Regions from separate parts of the Homo sapiens genome. Here region 2 is linked to region 1. Evidence: fine-mapped expression QTL. A gene starts in region 1. The other region holds a variant in brackets. All regions are shown on one strand. Distances are from middle to middle. Region 1 holds the start of PTPRO (protein tyrosine phosphatase receptor type O). Region 2 overlaps PTPRO (protein tyrosine phosphatase receptor type O).

What was found. PIP is the estimated chance that this variant, and not a neighbour inherited with it, causes the effect.
Region 2: its variant is fine-mapped to the expression of PTPRO in whole blood (INTERVAL, PIP above 0.99). The same link has a PIP of 0.9 or more in blood mononuclear cells.

The regions. Positions count from the first base shown.
Region 1 is chr12:15,316,471-15,326,985 of GRCh38, reverse strand. It overlaps PTPRO (protein tyrosine phosphatase receptor type O), which reads right to left and starts at 4,478. Exons shown (of 27, transcript NM_030667.3): 1 at 4,185-4,478. The coding sequence starts at 4,259. The region is part of intron 2 of LOC105369673 (a long non-coding RNA gene); the gene reads left to right.
Region 2 is chr12:15,542,147-15,552,661 of GRCh38, reverse strand. PTPRO (protein tyrosine phosphatase receptor type O) reads right to left here. Exons shown (of 27, transcript NM_030667.3): 13 at 5,954-6,093; 14 at 3,436-3,568; 15 at 991-1,111. It overlaps LOC105369672 (a long non-coding RNA gene), which reads left to right. Exons shown (of 3, transcript XR_002957403.2): 2 at 9,190-9,354. Among named protein-coding and RNA genes, the nearest start is that of PTPRO, 220 kb to the right of the region's middle. The variant C/T (reference allele first, on the strand shown) is at 6,483.

The DNA.
Region 1 (10,515 bases):
CCACATACTAGCACCATGAAAGATAGAAATATTACAGTAGACATTCCTTTATTTCAAAAATATTTACAACATATTTGGAGTAATTAAATGAAAACATTAAGTGCTTTACAGTAAAGCTCATCACTGCACTGGGATATGTTTCTGAAAATGCAACATCACTGAAACTGTGTACGGAGAGGCATTAAATTAGGGGAAAATGAAAACTTGTGGTCATTGTTGTTAAGCCTTCTATTGTGCCACACTGCTACCAATTACAATGTTTTACTTAAGTGCATCAACTGTATCTGACATCAAACATTCTTTTACAACCCCTCAAGTTAGAATTATATTTATAAGGTTCAGGAGTAAATCTGCTTATACGTTTAAATACCTTTAAGTTGGATATTTAGATAGTAGAAATAGTGTTACATTTTAAAATAAAGTACAACTCATATTGTTTTTAATCAGTTATCCACATAAATGTGCATTTTCTTTTGGGCCAAAATGAGGCAGAGGTGTAATGTGAATTTTTCATTCCTTCACACAACGATAGTCTCTCACAAAACAAAGAACAAAAGGAAACATATGTTCACAGTGGGAAGGATTATTACTCGATCATCTGTAGAAGCATGGCCCAGGGAGCCTTTGCCAACCTACTGGGGATGTCACATGTAAAAAGGTTTCTCCAAAAGGTTGGCAATATGATTTATTAAAGGAGTCAGATGACATGGGAGTTAAGGGCAGCAAACTTCATTGTGATGGAAAGGATCTAAGCTGCTCCAGCAAAATGAAAGGATTATGGTTCACCTGCCAACACTGTGCAATTTATGGATGAAACCTCAACCACGAAAAGTGAAACTTCTTTGTGTGTGTGTATGGGGTTGCGAGGGGAGACATAGGAAAGGAAAGGCAGACAGACCGTGGAAAACAGATATTTCCCCTGGATAAGAGTAGAATGGCCAGTATCATAACACTCATGTATTATAGAATTAAATATAAACCTGTTTCAGAAAGTACAATATTAAGACCCTTTTTAAATTTGATATTCTTTGATGATATCTCTGGTAAAAGCAGAAATAGAAAGAAATAGAGAGAAGGGGTTAAAAAAGAAGGACACACGCCAAGCACTTGAGTTTAGGAATATATTCCAGCTGACTACTAAAAAGCAACATTTCAGGGAAGGCCAACTTCAAATTCCTATGATGTCATATTCCACGATTTGCACCTTAGTAGACAAAGTACTTATACTGAGTAAACTGATACAGGAAGACATTTTCTAGGAGGGCTTTAGTAAAGATAGGACAAGTGTAGGAAGTTACATTTCTTTCACTGGGAATTATGGGAAGACACACAACAGCGAGGCTCGCCAGATAAATACCTCACTTGCATTCATCCATAGAAGACTTTGAAATTAGTAGCCTTCAATATAATAACAGAGTTCCATTTTTTCTTCTATTTTATATACACCATCAATATTGATATAAAAATAAAAATTTTCATAACCAACATTGTGTTTAGGCAAGATAAATTATGCAGATATTAGCTTCATAATGTGCAGTGAATGATTTAGACAGTCTGAGATGCCCGATTATATGTGCTCATCACTGCTCCATGGATAAGGAACGATGGCACAAAGACCTTCTTGGCCAGTCACATTTAGTCTCCCTCAATGGAACTGATTATAGCCATTCATACACATTCAAACTTTCCTACTTTTCCACCACTGATATCCAGCTGCTTATTTTTGAGTTGTGGAAAATGTAAAGCTGTAAATTAAGCCTCATACTTGAATTTCTCTGTCTTATTTTCCTTCAGAATTTTCACTCTTATATAAAGGATACACATATGGAGTAGTGAAAAATGTATTAACTATAGTGAAAACTATGGAAATTATTTTGGCAAGGGAGAGTTGAGAGAATGTTTCATTTCTGACTCGGCACACGTGGAACATTTTGGATTTTATTATTGAGATACAGTTAGCAGTTTGGTATTTAATAATGAATTTTTTCTCATCCTCCAGTCACAACCTGCTTGAGTAGATCTGTTTTACTGGCACTTAATCAGGACCTTTAATTCAAAAATATCTCCAAATTATAAAGAGATTATACCATGTGCCCAACGCACCATGTAATATACTATCCTCTAAATGTAAGATATTACACTGTGTGCCCAATTTACCATTTTTTTTGAACAACTCTTGTCAACTGCAGCAAAATAGGATTAAATGAAATAACGTATGTAAAATGCCTAAAAAACCAGCACATAGAAGGTATTTAATATATACAGTTTTTTCTTCTTTCCTCTGATATAGTTTATATTCAGGTGACAAAAATATTACATTCACATAAAATAAAGGAAAATGATTTTTCTTACAAAATTATGTGTCCCACTACAATAATTATTATTTAAATGGCAAACTTTGCCAATGTATTTACTATGGAAGCAGTTTGCCATAATTTACATTTACCTGCAATGTTCAGGAATATACCTATTATGTGAAGCAGGCTGGACCTCTATGACAATCACTAACATTTTCATTACACCATCACTAACTGCATTTTCTCATTCCAATATCGAGTTTTAAGTCAAACAATGGCCACATTTATTTTATTTTAATTGCAAAACCTTACCCCCACTCCCAACCAAGTCATTCTCTTATTTCTGGAATTATCTCATTATGAAGAACTCACGCAAAAACCTGCAGTTGTGCTAAACGTTAGGTTTGGATCAGATGTCATACATATAACTCTTAGCTGTTGCTCGTAAAATGCATAGTGACTTGGTTTCTAATTTTTGGTTCATGACAATTATTGCATAGGTAAAATAGTTGTGACAGTTTGATAAATAGTTAGAAAACGACTAATAGACAACCTAATAAGTCTAATGCATTTATGATGTGTATGAAAGAACAACCTCCTACAGTAAAAACATATAACTGAGCTTATTATTTACCATACTTTAAAATTAATGATTATTGATAATTTAAGAAAAAATGTTAAAACATATTAAATATATTTTAAGGTCTTACTTAGGCATTCTGTTGCTGTTTCTCCCTGAATTTTTTTTATATTTTTCATTAAGATAAATGAAAATATGGAGTATTTAAAAGTAATGCTGTTCTTAATCCATTGGTCCTGTTCCATTATATTCTTTTTAGGCATTCATAATTAATGGTGCATATAAGCAAGAAGTGACTCTATAATAAGAAAACCTTTGGATCCATTAACCTGGCATCCATTTCTAGGGAAGGTATCACTGTGGTCCTGAAAGGATAGCTCCAAGTCACCTGTCGACATTCTTGAGTTTGCTTTGCGGAGAGAGGAAAAGACTAACAACAGAACTAAAGTAGATCCACTGAAGACATGAGTGATAGACAATCACTTCAGAACTTCACATCGCCGTCCAAGAAAACATCTAGCTGACATTTCTTCAAAAAAATTTATGTACAGTATAGTTGTCAAACTGATTTTTCAAAAGCAACTCCTTTGCTTTTCATTTTTCTCAAAGTAAAACCTCAGGGTAGCACATTCCAAAGAAGATACGAAAAAGTTTATTATTATATATTTTTCCACCATTAAATCTAGGGGTAATATCATCTGTAAATATAGTGGAGAAAGTCTGGAGACTTTTTAAAAGGAATTGTAAAGATGTTGATAGGAGTTGGGGAGAGGAATCCTTACCAAGCTCTCTACCTGACACTCCTTATTCAAAGAAAATTCTGCCCTAACGTAGCCCTGGCAGTCCATTTGTGTCCAGGGAGCTCAGTCCCCCTCCACTCTCCAGTGTATAATTCCAGCAGTAAGGAAAATTAAGACAAAGCATTCTGTGCGAGGGAGGGCGGAAAGGTTAAGCAGCGTTGGGGTGCAGTGGAAACCAGAAAAGAAAGTGACCTCATTTTGCCTGAGAAAGCACGATCCAACAAGCCCACCTTTGATGTGGATTTCAGCAGCGATAAAAGAGCACAAAGGGCGAAAGCCGGAGGGAGCAAACTTCCCTTATTCTTCCCCCCGCCCCCTACCTCTCAAGACCACCAGGAACACGCACACGCGAGGACAACAAAGCGTGCGCCCAGGCTGCACGGCAGGCGCTTCCCGCGGCTGGGCCATCGTGCCCTGGGGCGCGCCGCTCCCAACGGCAGAGCGAGGGCGCCGGAGCGCGGCTGCCGCCCGGACCGCTGGGAAAAAGGGGTGGAGGAGCTCCCCTACCTTGAACAGCACAAAGAGCCAGAGCAGAGGCAGGAGGCGGCGGGCGCCGTGTATCCCCGTGGGCAGGTGCCCCATCGCTGCGCGGACGGGGACTCGGGGGCACGGCTGCGCTAGCGGACTCCCCCGGCGGCGGCTCACAATGGCGAACTGGGGCTGCAGCCTCAGACCCTGGGCGCCGAGGTTGCTCCTGGCGAGCGCATGCTGCCTTTCCAGTCCCCCTGCGCCTGCTCCCTTTCCTCCTCTGCGCCCGGGGTCCTCCAAGAACGTGCCAGGCGCTGCTGTTCTTTAATGACTAAGGATGGAGAGGGTGGGGATTGGAGTGGGCGAGGCTCTGCCGCCGCCACCACCGCGGCTGCCAGAGGAGGCGCGGGGTCTGTGTGGTGAGCGAGAGGCGGGGACCCCGCGCCCAGCCCGCCGTAGTCCTCTGGCAGCAGGGACACTCTCACTCTGGCTGCCGACCCATAAAATGACAGCAGCCTCCCAACCCTCCACCAGGATCGGCCCGCTGCTTGCTACTGCTGGACAGCCCCCATTGCAGACTCCGCCTCAACCCCTCCCTCAATCTCTGGGTCTCAGGAGTTCTGAGGGGTTTCCCTGACCTCTCTTGAGCAATCCAGGCGCCAGATCCCAGTTCCCTCTCAATCTTCCTACATCTGTACTCAATTGCAGTTATAAAGGATCAATAACAGTTGGGTAGTTGTGACTGTAGAAATAGTGTGTAGTGTGAGTGTGTGAGTGTGTGTGATAGGAAGGGTATTTTCTCTCCTTCCCCACTGCTTCCATTATCTCCATCCCATTTCAACACTCTCACCGTCTCCGTCCCACACTCACCCAGGAACAAATAGCACAATTATGCACCTTTTCCATTTGAAATCCGCAGTTCTTGTACATTTCAGATTCTCTTTTGATACCAAAGTGTGTCGGGTCACCTGAAGCTGAATATAGAAGGGGGAAAAATCACAGTATTTTACATGTATGACCCTTGAACAACACGGGTTTGAACTGTTGGGTCCAGTTATATGCAGATTTTCTTCCACCTTTGCCAGCCTTGAGACAGCAAGACCAAACCCTCTTCCTCCTCCTCTGCCTGCTCAGCCTGAAAAGGATGACGTTAAAGACTTTTATGATAATTCACTTCCACTCAATGAATATAAATGTATTTTCTCCTCTTTATGGTTTTCTTAATAATATTTTCTGTTCTCTAGCGTACTTTATTGTAAGAATACAGTATACAATACATACAACACAAAATGTGTGTTAATCAACTGTTTATTATGTTATCAGTAAGGTTTCCGGTCAAGAGTAGGCTATTAGTAGTTAAGGTTTTGATGAGTTCAAAGTTATATGTGGATTTTCAACTACGTGATTCTCTGTGTTGTCCAAGTGTCAACGGTATGTACAGTTATATTTTTAAACAATTATCTGTGAATAATTTTACTGGGATGTTTTAGAATCACAAGCAACGACTTTCAAGCTGTGGGTCCCCAATCTACTACTTGTCTCCTTTTTTGTTATGTGTATTTTTTTAAAGATAAGTCTGTCGAAATCAACTCTGGTATGCACTGTTCAGATAGAAATCATTTCTTATTGTCATGTAAATTACCCTTGCTGTGCCCTGTCAGTATTGGAACTTATTTATACCTGAGACATGCTTGGGCAACAGGAGACAGGAAAGGCCACCCTGGTCATGAATGTAGGTGTTCAGGCATAGACTTTGTCAGTCACACAGCTAGGGAGTGGTGGCCTGAGAAAAGGATCCAGAGCTGTGTTTACTCAGCTTTTGCTGCATGAGCAATGGCCAAACACTAATCATTTGGTTGTTGTTTGTATGTGTCTTAAGGAAGCTTTAGATTGAATATGTTTACATAAGTGTGAATATGTATATATACACATGTGTACATGTACACATATGTGTACATGTACATATGTGTACACACATGTGTGTGCATGTACATATGTGTACACATATGTGTGTGCATGTACATATGTGTGTACACATATGTGTATGTGTGTACATAGATACATATGTGTATGCATACGTATATGTATATGTACGCATATGTATATGCATGGTACATATATGTATATATGTACCAAATTTCATATGCATGAAATATGTACCAAAATTCATATGCATGAAAATATAGAATGATGGTCTGAATTTTTGTGAGAATATTATCCTTGGTGTCTTCTTTTAGAAGCTTCTTTTGTTTTCACATTCCCATCACATGCTCTCTTCAGGTCCCTCATGTCCACTCATCATTGGTTTGGACATTTTCTTTCTTTTGAGAAAATGTTAACTGCTCCTCCCTCCCTCTGGGTTAGACTTACGGGCTATCTGAACATTTAATCCTTGGGATTGCACTTATAGGAACTTTGGTTTAATATGTTTTCTTTTTATTTTGACGCTCCTGAAGCAGCATTTTATTCCCACTCGCCCTCAGAAGTGGCTGTAAAGTGATCTAATCTCTAGAACATAAGATATATATAGGCCAAGGGCAACAATCACACTCACAGGATGCCAACAATTTCTCTTTGGAGTAGCATTTAATTTTAAAATGTGTCTGTGAATTATGGGTCTGTATGATGATATTCATTTGTGTGTATGCATATGTCTGTGTGTATACATGGATATAGCCTTGCCTGATGTGCGTAGGGCGTTTAAAGCAGTTCTGATCATAAATTAATCTTGTAAATGCTAAAAGAACTTTCACAATGAGGCTCCCTTTTAAATAATCATATTCTGCTGCGTCTTTCTGTTTTTCTCTTAGTCATACATCACAATTTGTTCAGCTCTTTCTGTCTTTGTGCATATATATATATATGTATATATATATATATATATATATATATTATGTGGACCACTTTGGAGGAACAATAACAGTAAACAGTAAGTAGTAAAGCATTAGTAATTGGCATTGTTGTTATTTTATTAGTAACATTGTGGTTAGATGGGCTGAAGACTGAAAGTATTATTTTATAATCACAGAAAATTTCCTCTCTAGAGAAAAGTATTTTACATTGCTATTGCTGGATAAAATACTTTCATTTGTTTTTATTGCACTTAAACCATAACAGTGTCCTAGAAGAGATTCTCATAAAGAATGTGAATGCTGTGTCATCCACAGTGTGGGGTTTTCAATTCATAGAGCATGTTTTGTGTTTCTTTGAGCTATTGACTGGTTTTTCAATACAATACTTCCAAAGTATGATAAATCTTATTATGCTATTTTCAAGACTCCAAATCAACAAAACAGCCAGGGGCAACATACAGTGCATATAGTAATTTATGTTTCACCAATTGCTTCTACATATTGGTCCAGATTTCATTATGACAACCACATTGTTAGGTAAAGAAGGCTGAGATCATTATCACCAACTGTTTTCCCCTAATGCTACTTTTCCTGGAGAAAAAATAAACACAGAAAAATAATAATATCTCTGACATGCCATAAAACAAGCATTGAAAAATAAGTTCTCACAAATTGAAATAAAGCTCTCTACTTCCTTTGAAAATTATAAAAAGGTGGTTAATGATCATGAAACTGGAAGGTCTTTTTAAAATCTATAGGAGGCTTAGTTTTTACCAAGAAAAGCGATCTTTTCCTAAATATGTAGAAATGTATCTTTGCCTACGTGGTTCACATCTATCTCTTCTATAGAAAAGCAAGCGCAGACACAGAGAAGCAGCTAGAATCCCTGTGAGAGGTTTAATGAGGAGTCAAATGGAACTCTTACGGTGCCCTTGCCAATGAAGCTCAATTCTGTCCTCCAGGGACAACCTCTAATGTAGTTGAGTGTGTTTAGTCCTGGCTTCCACTACTGAAATAGCCTACAAGGCTGTCAGCAGTTTCAGTATTAGATAATTGTATTTATGGGGGATGCTCAATGACAAATAATTTACTTTATATGGAATAGAAAGAAAAATTCAAGCAATTGTTCTCTAGACTCTATTCCATTGGAAAAGTAATAGCCATTCAGTTTGTTGTCCATATCTCACATGTTACAATTTTTATAGCATATGAACTGTAGATTATCTGTATTAAGCTCTTGGAAGAAAATGACCAGGAAGCATTTTGATTTTCTATTTATTTGAGCATTTGTTTTAATTTTTTCTCTTGATGAGCACTGGTTTCTCACCTAAATGATGTGTTGACAATTCATAAGTTTTGTGTCTTTCAAAATGAGAACGATTGACAGCCCTCAGGTGAATGGCATGTTCCAACTGCCAAGACTTATTACTCTTGCTGCACTTGAAAAACAGTGGAAATACGCTAAAGAAGGTCATTTTTGCTTTTACTTGGAGAGTCTTTTCCCATTATATTCCCCTCTCCCGCCGCAAAAGATTCCTATTAAGAGACCTATCTTACTTGTACTTGACTCTTACATGTCTTAAAGAAAATCAAATAAGAATATTGCATTACAAGATATGTCTTACAACACAAAATTATATACTTAAAGAAATAAGGAAACATACATAGAAAGTGTGAGCAGATATGCAGATATATATCACTGGACACAAATTACAGGCTATAGGATAAACAGCCCTACATTAGAAATGCAGATTGTCGTGTTTTTAGATATTATACCTTCATTCAGTCATATACTAGGATTCTGTTTGTTGCTAGCATTTCATTTAATTGCTCTAAAACTTTAATAAAAGGCATTAGCCTTAAGTTATATGATTTTATCTCATATTTTATTTATATGAAATGCCTTGACTAATGAACTTCTAAAATATTTTTTCTGAATGTTCCAGACATTGCTATCATTTACTAATTTAGCTTTTCTTCATAACTAGGTTTTTTGGCTAACTATAATTTAAAGTATTAGCATCACTGCACTGAGTGATTCACTTTAGCTTGGCATGAAAAGCAAGAATAGAACCTGAGTGTAATTTATAGCTAAAGCAAGACATAGTGTTTGCTAAGTGGAAATGGTATCTGCTGATGCTTCCTTCCCTTCCTTCTTTACTTCCCCTCAAATTAAAGGTGCAATGCAACATTTACAGTCAACTCAGTGTCACACATAGTGCCTACATATGTGCCACTTAAAAACAGCTACCAATATCTAATTATGAAAAATTTGGTGATGGTGATTTCAGGTGCTATGTAAAAACTATGAAAACATTAATCGCATATTTTGAAAATCCACTGCCTTAACTGCTAAGGGTTTTACCTCAGCAGTTATAGTACTATAGCAGGTATAACAACATTGCATTGACAATCATACTTCAAATCAATCACACCAAATCAATTTTATGCTGAAATTACAAAGCTAATGATATATTCAAATTTAACTGTGAGAGAAGGGGTAAAGAAGACCATACTCTGAAGAGATGAGGGGATGCCACTGATAGATTGATGTTATTACCTGTCTTAGCAGAGGGACATAGAAGAAAAAATTTAAAGAAGGCACAGTAATTCTAGAGAAAATGAAGTGCCCAAGGGAAAACTAAAACATCCTCCTCATCAAAACACAAAAAGAGAAGGCAAAACAGGAAAGTCACACATTTCTAGATACACTTGCTTAGTGTGAATATCTGTAAGAGAAGCAGTTTGGGAGTGGGGGTTATATGTAGAGATTTCACCTGTTTTGGTTAATAATTTGATAATGTGGAAAAATTATAAGAGTAAGCATTTAATGTATCTCAAGAGGATGATTTGAGTGAAATCTGATCAGGGATCAACATATGTGAAGCCTATGGCCATTCTCTGTTAACTCACTATCTCACTCTACAGTGACCACTTTCTGCCTTTTCTACTCATCTCAAAGCTTCAACCCTCTGCCCTGGAAAACTTTTCAGTGTTTTGGCTTCACCTTCTACCTTAGAGAGGAAACAGAGGTGACAACTTTTTTATCTTCCTTGACAGTAAACATAATTCCAACCCATATTCAATTCATTTCTGTCTTGTTGAGTACAAGGAATGGTCTCTCTCTCCCTCTCAACGACCATATAAAGAAAATTTTACCACCTATTTTCGGGAGCTCATTACTTCCAGCCTTTTCTGTGCTATTTTGATGGATTCCATCCTTTGGGTTTTTAACCATGTTCATAACTTTACAACTGAAGGAAAGAAAGTCTTCACTGGGCCCTGCTTGTCCTTGGCCGCAACCTTTTCTTTCTCTCTCTCTTTCACCACTGCCACCGTCCGTTCACAGCGATGATTTTTGAATGGTCGTGTATACTCTGTCTCCATATTTTTCAGCTTCTACTTGCTTTTCAAACCACTCTGTAGGGCTTCTGTTCCCATCATCTCCTGAGCACTGCTCTCACCAAAGTCCACTAGGAACCTCTTGGGAGAGTATGCTATGTTGGCTGTTCCCTCCT
Region 2 (10,515 bases), 230 kb before region 1:
TTATTCTCTAGTTTCATGGCATCCTGTTTTTAATCCCCTTTATGCTACATGTCAGCTTATGCCTTTAAATATATCTATCTATTCATATATCCAGTTAGGTAAGTAAGCTCCTAGTGGACAGCTTTGATGTCTGATTTTTCTTTGGATATGCCATGTCAGGCACTGATTAGATCACTATTGGATAGATGAATTTATTTATAAATATGTGAGTGATAGAACTCTGAGACAGGAGAAGAATGTTAATTTATAATTCAGCAGGTTAATATTGGGCAAATATAAATGTTAACAAAATTTCCCAAACCAAGTAGTATTCAAATAAGCAACAGTTTTTAAGGGAATTGATAGATTATTCTGATAATACAGGGGGCCACAGAAACTACTTGAGAATGTGCTCTGATGAGCAATGCATCAGTGGTCAAAGGAACAGGGAAGAGCTGAAATCATAAATCAAAGGCTTTTCTAATTGCAAGAAAAACTAAGCTGGCTGCAACTCTGAGTAATAGGAATAAAACTAATAGAGACTGCTAATGGACCTAATCATAAACTGTACAAATATTTTCCAATAGAACAGCTTAAAATTATGGAGAGGATTTCCCGCCCCCCACCCCGTTCTTTCTTGTCATCTCCATTTTTATTAACTTTTTTCATTAACTATACTGAACTGTCATAGATATTTCTTTTATTCCAAATGTGTATGAAAGTACCCAAATGTAATGGATCTCCATATATGGGCTACTTCAAATGCCAAGATTGATAGCAAGAGGTCTGACTTTGTGTAAACAAGCAATCCTTTGCTTTCTCATTTCAATGGTAATATTTTCCAATATAATGTTTCGAAGTCTATTTAGAAAACACACACAATAGAAACAGACACTGAAAACTAAAATCCAATATACCGCTATACAACTTAGGTGTGCAAAAACAATATATATATGGCAGATAAAGATATTTTAAAGATTCCGGATAAAATATTAGTAAAACTTAACTTACCTAGCCATCTGCAGATGCTTTTTCCTAAGAATAATGAGGGTAACAAGCAACAGTCCAATTAAAAGTGTGCTAAGGATGGCCAGCACGGAGATCACTACCACATTGGGATTCATCTCTGTAACTAAAGAGATAAGTTGTGCATTTTCATCATAGGTTCTCTTACAGGGAACCAAACAGAACCATTCATTGCTTTTCATCTAGTCTTAAGGGCAGTGAGCTTACGATGATACCAATAATAGTAACAATCATGTTCCCCAAGCCAGCAATGACCTCTTCCTGGTCAACTGTAACTTAGCAAACTAGACTGATAAGTGGTATTGAGGTGTCTGGAAGAATTGAGTCCCTTTCAAAGGCCTACAACATTCAGGATATTCTTACATAGGGAAACTAAAGAATGAAGAATACCTGTGCCACAGTTTAAATTCATTTGAAAGCTAAAAATGTGGAAGTCATTACCATGCATTATCGTTTTTTAACATTTTCACAAGCTTAGAGGGTGGCAACCTCTTATTTTACGCCCATGATTTTGAAGTCAGAAAGCACAACTGTATACTTTGCTTACAACTAATAATGTATATCAAAAAGACATTAGCAAACTACCATCTGCTGAAGCACTTAACACATTACTAGAAGCAGACATTCTGATGATCCGTGGCCATATGTTTAGGGGTTTTCCATCTGCACAGCTCAAGAGATAAAACCTATTAATAGGTTGTAGGGCCCTGAAGAACAGGGGTCACGTCCTTTTCATGTACTCTATATAAAGACTTGTCTCCTGTGGCACTTACACATTGTCTACTTCTTCATACTACACGGAAGAACAGGATATCAAAGGCAGGAACATAGGTTTAATATTCTTATAAAACTCTTTAAAATGGGCCTGAGGACTCATACCATCTTTTGCATTGATCATAAAGTCACAGAATGAGCAGGTGCATCTGATCCCTAAGGTTCTGGGTATTTACCACTTCCCATTTGGGCCAGCTTGGCTCCAGTTTATGAGTAGAGTGCTTAAACAGAAAGAACAATGGACGCATGATCAGAAGAGCTTTTTCGCTTGAGTACTGCTATTTGGAGAGAAGCCATTTCATCTGCCCTATGGGCCTCATTTTCCTCATTTATAAATAAGTTTAATAATATCACCTGTTATGCTACATTGTCATGGAGCTGACAAGGAATGATGGACATTAAGGTACAGTTGACCCTTGAACAAAATGAGTTTGAACTGTGCAGGTTCACATATATATGGATTATCTTTACTCTCTGCCACCCTTGAGACAGCAAGACCAAACCCTCCTCTTCCTCCTCCTCCTCAGCCTACTCAATGTGAAGACCATGAGGAAGATCTTTATGAAGATCTGCTTCCACTTAATGAATAGTACATATATTTTCTCTTCCTTACGATTTTCTCAATAACATTTTCTTTTCTCTAGCTTACTTTATTGTAAGAATACAATATATAATAAGTATAACATACAAAAATGTGTTGATCAACTGTCTATATCATTGGTAAGACTTCAGGTCAACAGTAGCCTATGAGTAGTTAAGTTTTGAGGGAGTCAAAAATTATACATGGATTTTCAACTATGCAGAGGTTGGCACTTCTAAGTCTCTCATTATTCATCGTCAACTGTATATTTTAGAAAGTGTACAAGGATGTAGGAATGAGAGACCATTAAAATACTTTGCAGGTATATTTTTTGTCCTCTCTTCTGAAAAAACAAAAATTAAAAACAGAAAACCAAAAAGAAAAAGAAAAAAGAAAACAGTCCGCTCCAGTCATCCCTGAATTTAGCAGCTAAATATATGACTAATATTACAGAAATGGAACTAAACCAGTGAAGTTATGAGTGACTTTATTACAAGAGGCTTCATAGAGGGTCTCAGGTTGCAGAATCAGACTCTAACAAACCAGGAGTAACACATGTAATACAACTAAGAAAAGAATAAGGAAATAAACAGCATCATTCCAGACCTTTCATTAACCTCTAATTTTCCCACTTATACTTTTGGCTGGATTGGAAACTTTCTTGCTTTGACCCAGTTATCAATTATGTCATTCTCTGATCGGTGACAGATGAAGACCAAGGCTAAATAGATGAAATTGGATTGATAAGAGTACTGTGCCTATTACTGAAGAAGATGAGATGAGTTAGCAACTAGCATTTAGACAGCATATACTAAGGATTTAAGTATTTTATTTCTAAGCTTCAAAACAACTCAGAAAGTTACATATTATTATTCCAATTTTACAGATGAAAGAAAAGCTCAGAGGCACCAAATGTCTTTCTCTAACTCCATAGCTAGTAAGTGCACTTTGGGATTGAAATTAAGGACTCTCTGACTCCGAAGCTTGGGATTTCTTGGTGGAATATTGATACAAATACATATATATATATATATTCAAAAAAAGTGAGAAAATTATACACTAATGTGTATAATTACCCATTGTTGAGACGGCTATGAACGTAGGGACACTGGGGCTGTCATGGCTAAAGCTGGTGACACTACAATTGTAGGCAGTGGCAGGAAGAAGGCTGGAGATGGTCACGACATGGGAAGAAACAGCAACTGGTTCCTGGGGTTTCAGAAAATAAGGTAAATTTTAGGTTAACTTCATCTATATTTTTTAAAAATATATTTCATAGTTGAGTTGGTAATAGATTGACAGAGTAAAAAATGTATAAGATGACAAAGAATAGCATTGAAAAATGTTTCCTTTTTTCCCCATTCCCCATCTGACCAATTCCCTTCCATGGAAGCAGCATTATTCCATGTTGTCAGGCATTATTTTTCTTCCCATATGCATTTTATGGATGTATGAACATATATGACACAGTTAAAAAACATAAGTGATGGCTTAGCCTACACATTATTCTGCTAATTTTTTTACCTTAGCTATCAATATATTTTGGTGCTTTTTCCATATCAGTACAGATTAAGCTGTTTTATTCTTTTTAAGAGCTGGACAGAAATCCGTTGAAAGGACATACCATAATTTATTTAATGAGCCCCGGTTGATGAATGTGTAAATGGTCTCTGATTTTTTGCTATTGCAAACAATGCTACAATGAACTTCATTTCACAAATTTGGGAAGACACACACATATGCATATAGACACACACACACACACACACACACATATATATACACACATATATACACACAATATATGCATGTAATATGTATATATGTGTGAACGTACACACATACACATATACTCATATATTCTTTGCTAGTGTCACATTCTTTGAACTGCTGAGTCAAAAAGTGTACATTTAAAATTTTGAAAGCTATAGAAAAATAGTTCTCTACAGACATTTTGCAAGTTACTCACCTTTGGCATCAATGCGTGACAATGCCTGCCTCCCTACATTCTTTCCAGTACCATACATTTGCAAACTCTGAGCTTTCCCATTATTACTAGTGAAAATTGTATATTGTAGTTTTATTTTGCATTTTTTTTTTACCGTAAGTGAGGTTGCTGAAGTTTTCATCTGTTCAAGAGATTTCTGTATTTTTCTATGAAATATTTGTTTTGGGTTGTTGACCTTTACCTTTTTTGACTTGTAGCAATTCTTTATATATTAAGGACACTACACCTTTGTCTGCATTCTTAGCTTTTATATAACATCCACTAAAACATGGCAACTATCCGCACTAAGAAACATTTAGTATTAACTTATTCTTGAGTCAAAGAAGTTGCTAACTTGGTGGACCCATGGCCAGACTAGTGACAAGTACTACTGTACAACAGCAAAAGATGAGCCAGCATTTTTTTCAAAACAAGATTTTGAAACACCCTTGCATAAAGAAATGAGAGCCATCAGCATTTTCTTCCACTTCCTTCTCTTTCACTATTCTATAAAAGAATTATTCTAAGGAAAGACTTTTGCTAACAGGACTCAGTTGTAGTAAGTAGCTAACTAACCATTGTTTTCTTAAAGGAAGGCATCACTGTAGTTATAGAGAAGAAAATCCATTATTGGCAGAGCAGTTATTTTCCAAAAGGATTCTTAGAATAGAGAAAATTCAGCTGTTCAGTACAAATCAACAAGAGATACATTCATAGAAGGGAATCTCAAAAGGAGAAAGGAATCAAAGCAAATTATCTTAGCATTCAATATGAAAAGATTTGCACTCCCAGCATTCCTTTTTTCTTCTCAATCTCATGAACTTCATTATTTAAAAAAGATCAATTACTTATGTTCGCAGTATTAGTCTACACACTATATTATGTAAAATCCCTAACAAATCTGTCCTTTTCCTTTCACTTCTGGCTGTGAAATATTTTTTCCTTGTGGCGTTGCCACTCATAGAACTGCAGGTTCATCTCTTTCCTTTCATTCATTCTGACCTGGTGAATAACTCTGTTTATCGTATCTGCCATTTGTAATTCTAGAGCTTTAGCAATAACCTTCTCTCAGTCTTCATTTTGCAATAAGACTGTCCCCCTTACAAACTAGATATGCACGTTTCTTTTAAATTCTCTTGGTCGAATGGACCTGTCTTGTGGTACTTATATTTTACTTTACTTTTTTCTATACTTATGCAATGTCTACACCATATAAAAATGTTTTGAAGGCAAATATTGATTCTATCATGTGTGTTCTATTCAGTGCCTTTATATACTTGGCAAATGGTTCATATTTGTTAAATTATATTTTATATTGTAGGGTCTTTCTTCCCTTGATCAATTCAATGGCCTACTACCTTTATTCCTTTGTCTGACCTGGAGTGACTTATGAATTAGGAACAAGTGATACAGACAAAGATAAAAGTTCTCATAACAACTTTTGGGCTTGGTCTAAGCCTGCTGTTAATTTCTATCAGTGAAACACAAAAGAGCAAATAAACAGTTTTCATTTTATATAGCTCAAAGAAATAGAAGATTCTTATTTTGCCCAGATAATTAGCCTTACTTAAGTTAACTGAGAAAAGGTAGATCAAAAGGTACAGTACCTGAAGTTTGGTTTTCTGACTGGAGCCAACTTGTTGACAGAAAACTTCAAAGAAATCAGCTACTCCCTCTTCCACCCACAGCAAAGTCACTGAAGTCTGGGTTTTGTTCACTGCGAAGAGTGATTTGGGTGGAGCTGGTTCTGAGCAAAGACAAAGTTTTAAAAAAAATTTAATTTACTAAGTGTATTCTTTCTTCTTTCACTAATAAGCAGGTGAAGCATCCCCCAATTCAAATATAGGTAGGTAAGAGCACCATAAAGACTTTATATTGCCTTTGAAATATGTCCTTTCATAAAGATAGCTATCTAACTTGGAAGGCAGAATACTTTGCCTTTTCCCCCTTCCATTTTTTTACTTCTCTTTTCAGAACACTTCTGTTTTCTACTTCAGTTTCATCATAGTCATAATCTATTAATAGTTTCTGTGTCATTTATACTGAAGTTAGCATTGCCCTGATAATACAGAACTTCCTGGATGAGAAACAAAAATCTGCACTTAATAAAGGTGGAGAAAAATGAAATTTGGTGTG[C/T]TTCCTTCTAATGATGAGATGCAGTTTGGTATTTAGCCAACAACCTGTCTTCCTTTCTCTGGAAACTATCTGGAACAATTCAGACAGAAAAATGGCTGCTTGAAAATTTAGTCAAAATTTAAAAAGATAAAGCTAAACAGATAGTATCATTTTTTTTTTTTTTTGAGGCGGGGGTCTCACTCTGTCACCCAGGCTGGAGTGCAGTAGTGCGAACACAGCTCACTGAAGCCTCATCTTCCCTGGCTCAAGTGATCCTCCTGCCTCGACTCCCAAGTAACTGGGACTACCTGGCTTATTTTTGCATTTTTTGCAGAGATGGAGTTTTGCCATGTTGCTCAAGTTGGTCTCAAACTCCTGGGCTCCAGCAATCCACCCACTTTGGCCTCCCAAAGTATTGGGATTACAGGTGTGAGCCACCGTGCCTGGCTGATAATATAATTTTTTAAGAAAAGAATTGATAGGAGGGGATTGGAAGATTAATAAAACATTAGATAAATTTTTTATCTTAGACATTTTATCTTAATAATAAATAAATCCATTCGTAAAGGAAGCTGTGTTGTCTGTCCTTTTCATACTTATTTCTAGTAATTGAGTCACTGGCATTGCTCTCTTGAGACCAAAAAACCCTGCCTGTTCCTCAATTCTAATAGTCATCTGCTGTCTCATTCTCCATTCCTGAATGTCTCCTGGTCTTCTGCTTGTGACCCTGTCTTTTGGATGTTGTCTTTCCCTCTAGGTCCCCCAGTATGCAGAGTGCTGTGCCTGAACTCAAGGTTTTAAGCTGGGGTCCCTGTTACCTGCTCTCAGACCCCCTGACATTGCTTATTTGGACATATTGTACCTTGCTGCTAGGTTCACATAACAGCATCCTCCATCCACCTATATGCGCCTGTCAGACGACTACCCACTGTTGTAGGTTTCTTCCTGCTTGTTACTTGGATTTTTCATTTTCTGCCCCACTCTCCTAAGTCTGTTCTCCAGCTCCTGTCCTTTAGAGGTGCTTGAAAAAGTCCTGTCAGCCATTTCACTGCTTTGACAGGTACACATCTTTGTGTGGAAAGATTTGAACCTTGTTTCTAGAATATCATCATTGTGACTCTGCCCAGGACCAAGAAGTATGTCAAAATCATTCTTGCCATGATTTATCACAGATCTCCTAAACTTGTGTCCAACTAAAAAGAAGCATGTTTCTTTCCTGCAGCAACTTGACAAGGTTAGGCAGAAGAGTTGAAGGAGGAAAGAGATGAGTTCTTCTTAGGCAAGCAAAATTCACAATAGGTGTCAGGAGCCCTTTTTCACTTGCAATGAATTGTCCAGTCCTCCAGGCATTGTATTGTCCCACTTCTGCTCTGAGGAAGACTGCTAATGAAACACAGAGGTCAATTTCCACTTCTCACTTCCTTTATAACTGCCTTTGCTAATAGGATTATGTCCTTTAGGGATTCTGACTCATGTGGAACTTGAATCTATAGAACCAAGTGTGAAGTTGTTTGGGGGCATAGATGAATGATTAGTTAGGCTGAGCCTAGGCTTTTCTTTTTTAAAAATGCACACTACAGAATTGTTCCTCAGTCACAATTCTGAGGCTCTTCCCTTATTTCTCAGTCCCAGAGAGCATATCTTTTAAAAACTCGTTACCTTTTCCTTTAATCTTTTTTTTTTTTTTTTTTTTTGAGATGGAGTCTCGCTCTGTCACCAGGCTGGAGTGCAGTGGTGGTGCAATCTCGGCTCACTGCAACCTCTGCCTCCCGGGTTCAAAAAATTCTCCTGCCTCAGCCTCCTGAGTAGCTGAGACTACAGGCGCATGCCACCATGCCCAGCTAATTTTTTTGTATTTTTAGTAGAGACAGGGTTTCACCATGTTGGCCAGGATGGTCTCGATCTCCTGACCTTGTGATCTGCCTGCCTCTGCCTCCCAAAGTGCTGGGAGCTGGGATTATAGGCATGAGCCACCACCCCCGGCCTCCTTTAATCTATTTTTAAATTATATTGCATGTCTAGACTTTTGTGATCACATTCATTGATCATCACAAACTTGCTGTGCCTCTTTTTCCCTGGCTCTAATCAATTCTTTCTTCATTTTGTCAACAACGGATTAAAATCACCTTAAAATGCCATTTCACTCATGTTAAATCCTATCTGTGCATTGTCTGTGGTATCACATCCAAACATACCATGTCTTTAAGATCCTGCTTAAACTGGCTGCATGCTATCCAACCAGCTTCACCACCATTCCTGACACACAGATGTGTTGCCTCCTGGGAAAGACAGTCTTCTCACTGAACTTCAGGGCAGTGCTCTATGTCAGCCCATGTTTGCCTTCAATCAGTATGCTCTTTATTCTGCTCATTCGAAGGTCAAGAAAAAGTCTTACCTCCTCCTTGAAGTCTCATTTGGTGACTCTTTCTCTTAATGATTTATCCCTTCTCTGACATTCTACTGCCTTTAATTATTTCCTATATAATCTATGTGAGTGAAGGCCTGATTCTAGTAGATCCTATTAGATTCTTTAAGAACAAGGGTCATGTGTTATAAATGACTTTGTCTTCATTTGAAGTAGCCACCTATAGGTACTCAAAAAATCTTATTTATCGGCTGATTTAAAACATGAGTCAAGATTCATCAACCAAAAGAGGAGGATTCAAGCACCAGGCAAGACCAGACACGCTGAGGTTGTATCTTAATGTTCTCTTCTGTTTTTATGTAGGTAAAATTATCCAATTTCAGGGGCAAAGTCAAGAACTATCATGAATTACTGCAAGAGCTCCCAGTGGTCCAAGGAATACGACATGAATACTGCAGTGAGGGTTTCCTTTGTTCTGGCTGAGAATGTGGCTCTAGGTGATAAGATCCTCAGGAAAATCTCCTAAAGGTCTGGGACATCTAACAACCACGTAACAAATTTTTCTTTTTGGGTGGAATATGAGGGCAATAGATTATTTCAAGGTCCCTGCACCTGTGATCACTGTGTACTTTTCTGGAAGACGTTTACATGTCAGCTCTATAGGTCAATGAATACATACATAAATCACCTGCTTGAGGACTGTTCAGGATCTTCGTGATTGGTGTGCTTCCCTAAATTAATCAGGCAGAAATTTAACTCTGGTATCCCAAAGGAAACAAAGAAAGTTATTACAATTTATTGTTATTATAATTATGAACTTATTACTATTACAAGATTTCACAAGTGAAAGTATAATTGAATTGGGAGTGCTTATAATTAGATTTTCCTACTCAAGACAACAACTGTCCCAGGAAATGTTTTAAAATGTAAGAATCGGAATGTGAATTGTCCAACACAGCCACTAGCCACATGTAGCTGTTGCGTACTTGAAATGTGGCTAGTCCAAATTGAGAGGTGTTGCAAATGTAAAATACAGACAGAATGTCAAAGACCTAGTGTGAGAAAAGAATAAAATATCTTATTAATAATTATTTATATTGATTATATGTTGGAACAATATGACCTTGGATATATTTGGTTACATAAAGTATATCGAATTCAATTTTACCTGTTTCTTTTTACTAATTTTTAATGTGGCTACTAGAAAATTGAAAGTTATACATGTGGCCCTTATTATGTTTCAAATGAATAGTACTGAGTTAGAGCATTTCTTCTTATTGCCTAGAGTAGAAGTCTGGAAATTTCTGGCAAAAACTGGCTAGGGGGTTCCCACTTCTCATGAGAAGTCAAGGCCAGCTCAGTGCCACAGCCTAAGATGGTTTAGATCAAACTTGTCCAACCCATGGCCCGTAGGCCGCATGCTGCCCAGAATGGCTTTGAATGCAGCCCAACACAAATTCATAAACTTTCTTAAAACATTGTGAGATACTTTTAGTGAAATTTTTTTGATTCATCAGTGTTAGCATATTTTATGTGTGGCCCAAGATAATTCTTCTTCCAGTGTGGCACATGGAAGCCAAAAGCCAAAAGACTGGACACCCCTGGTTTACATGACTCATGTTTTCCATTCTCAGAAGCACAAGATTAAAGTAGATAGTGGCTAAATATTAATTAGGCAATTGCATATGA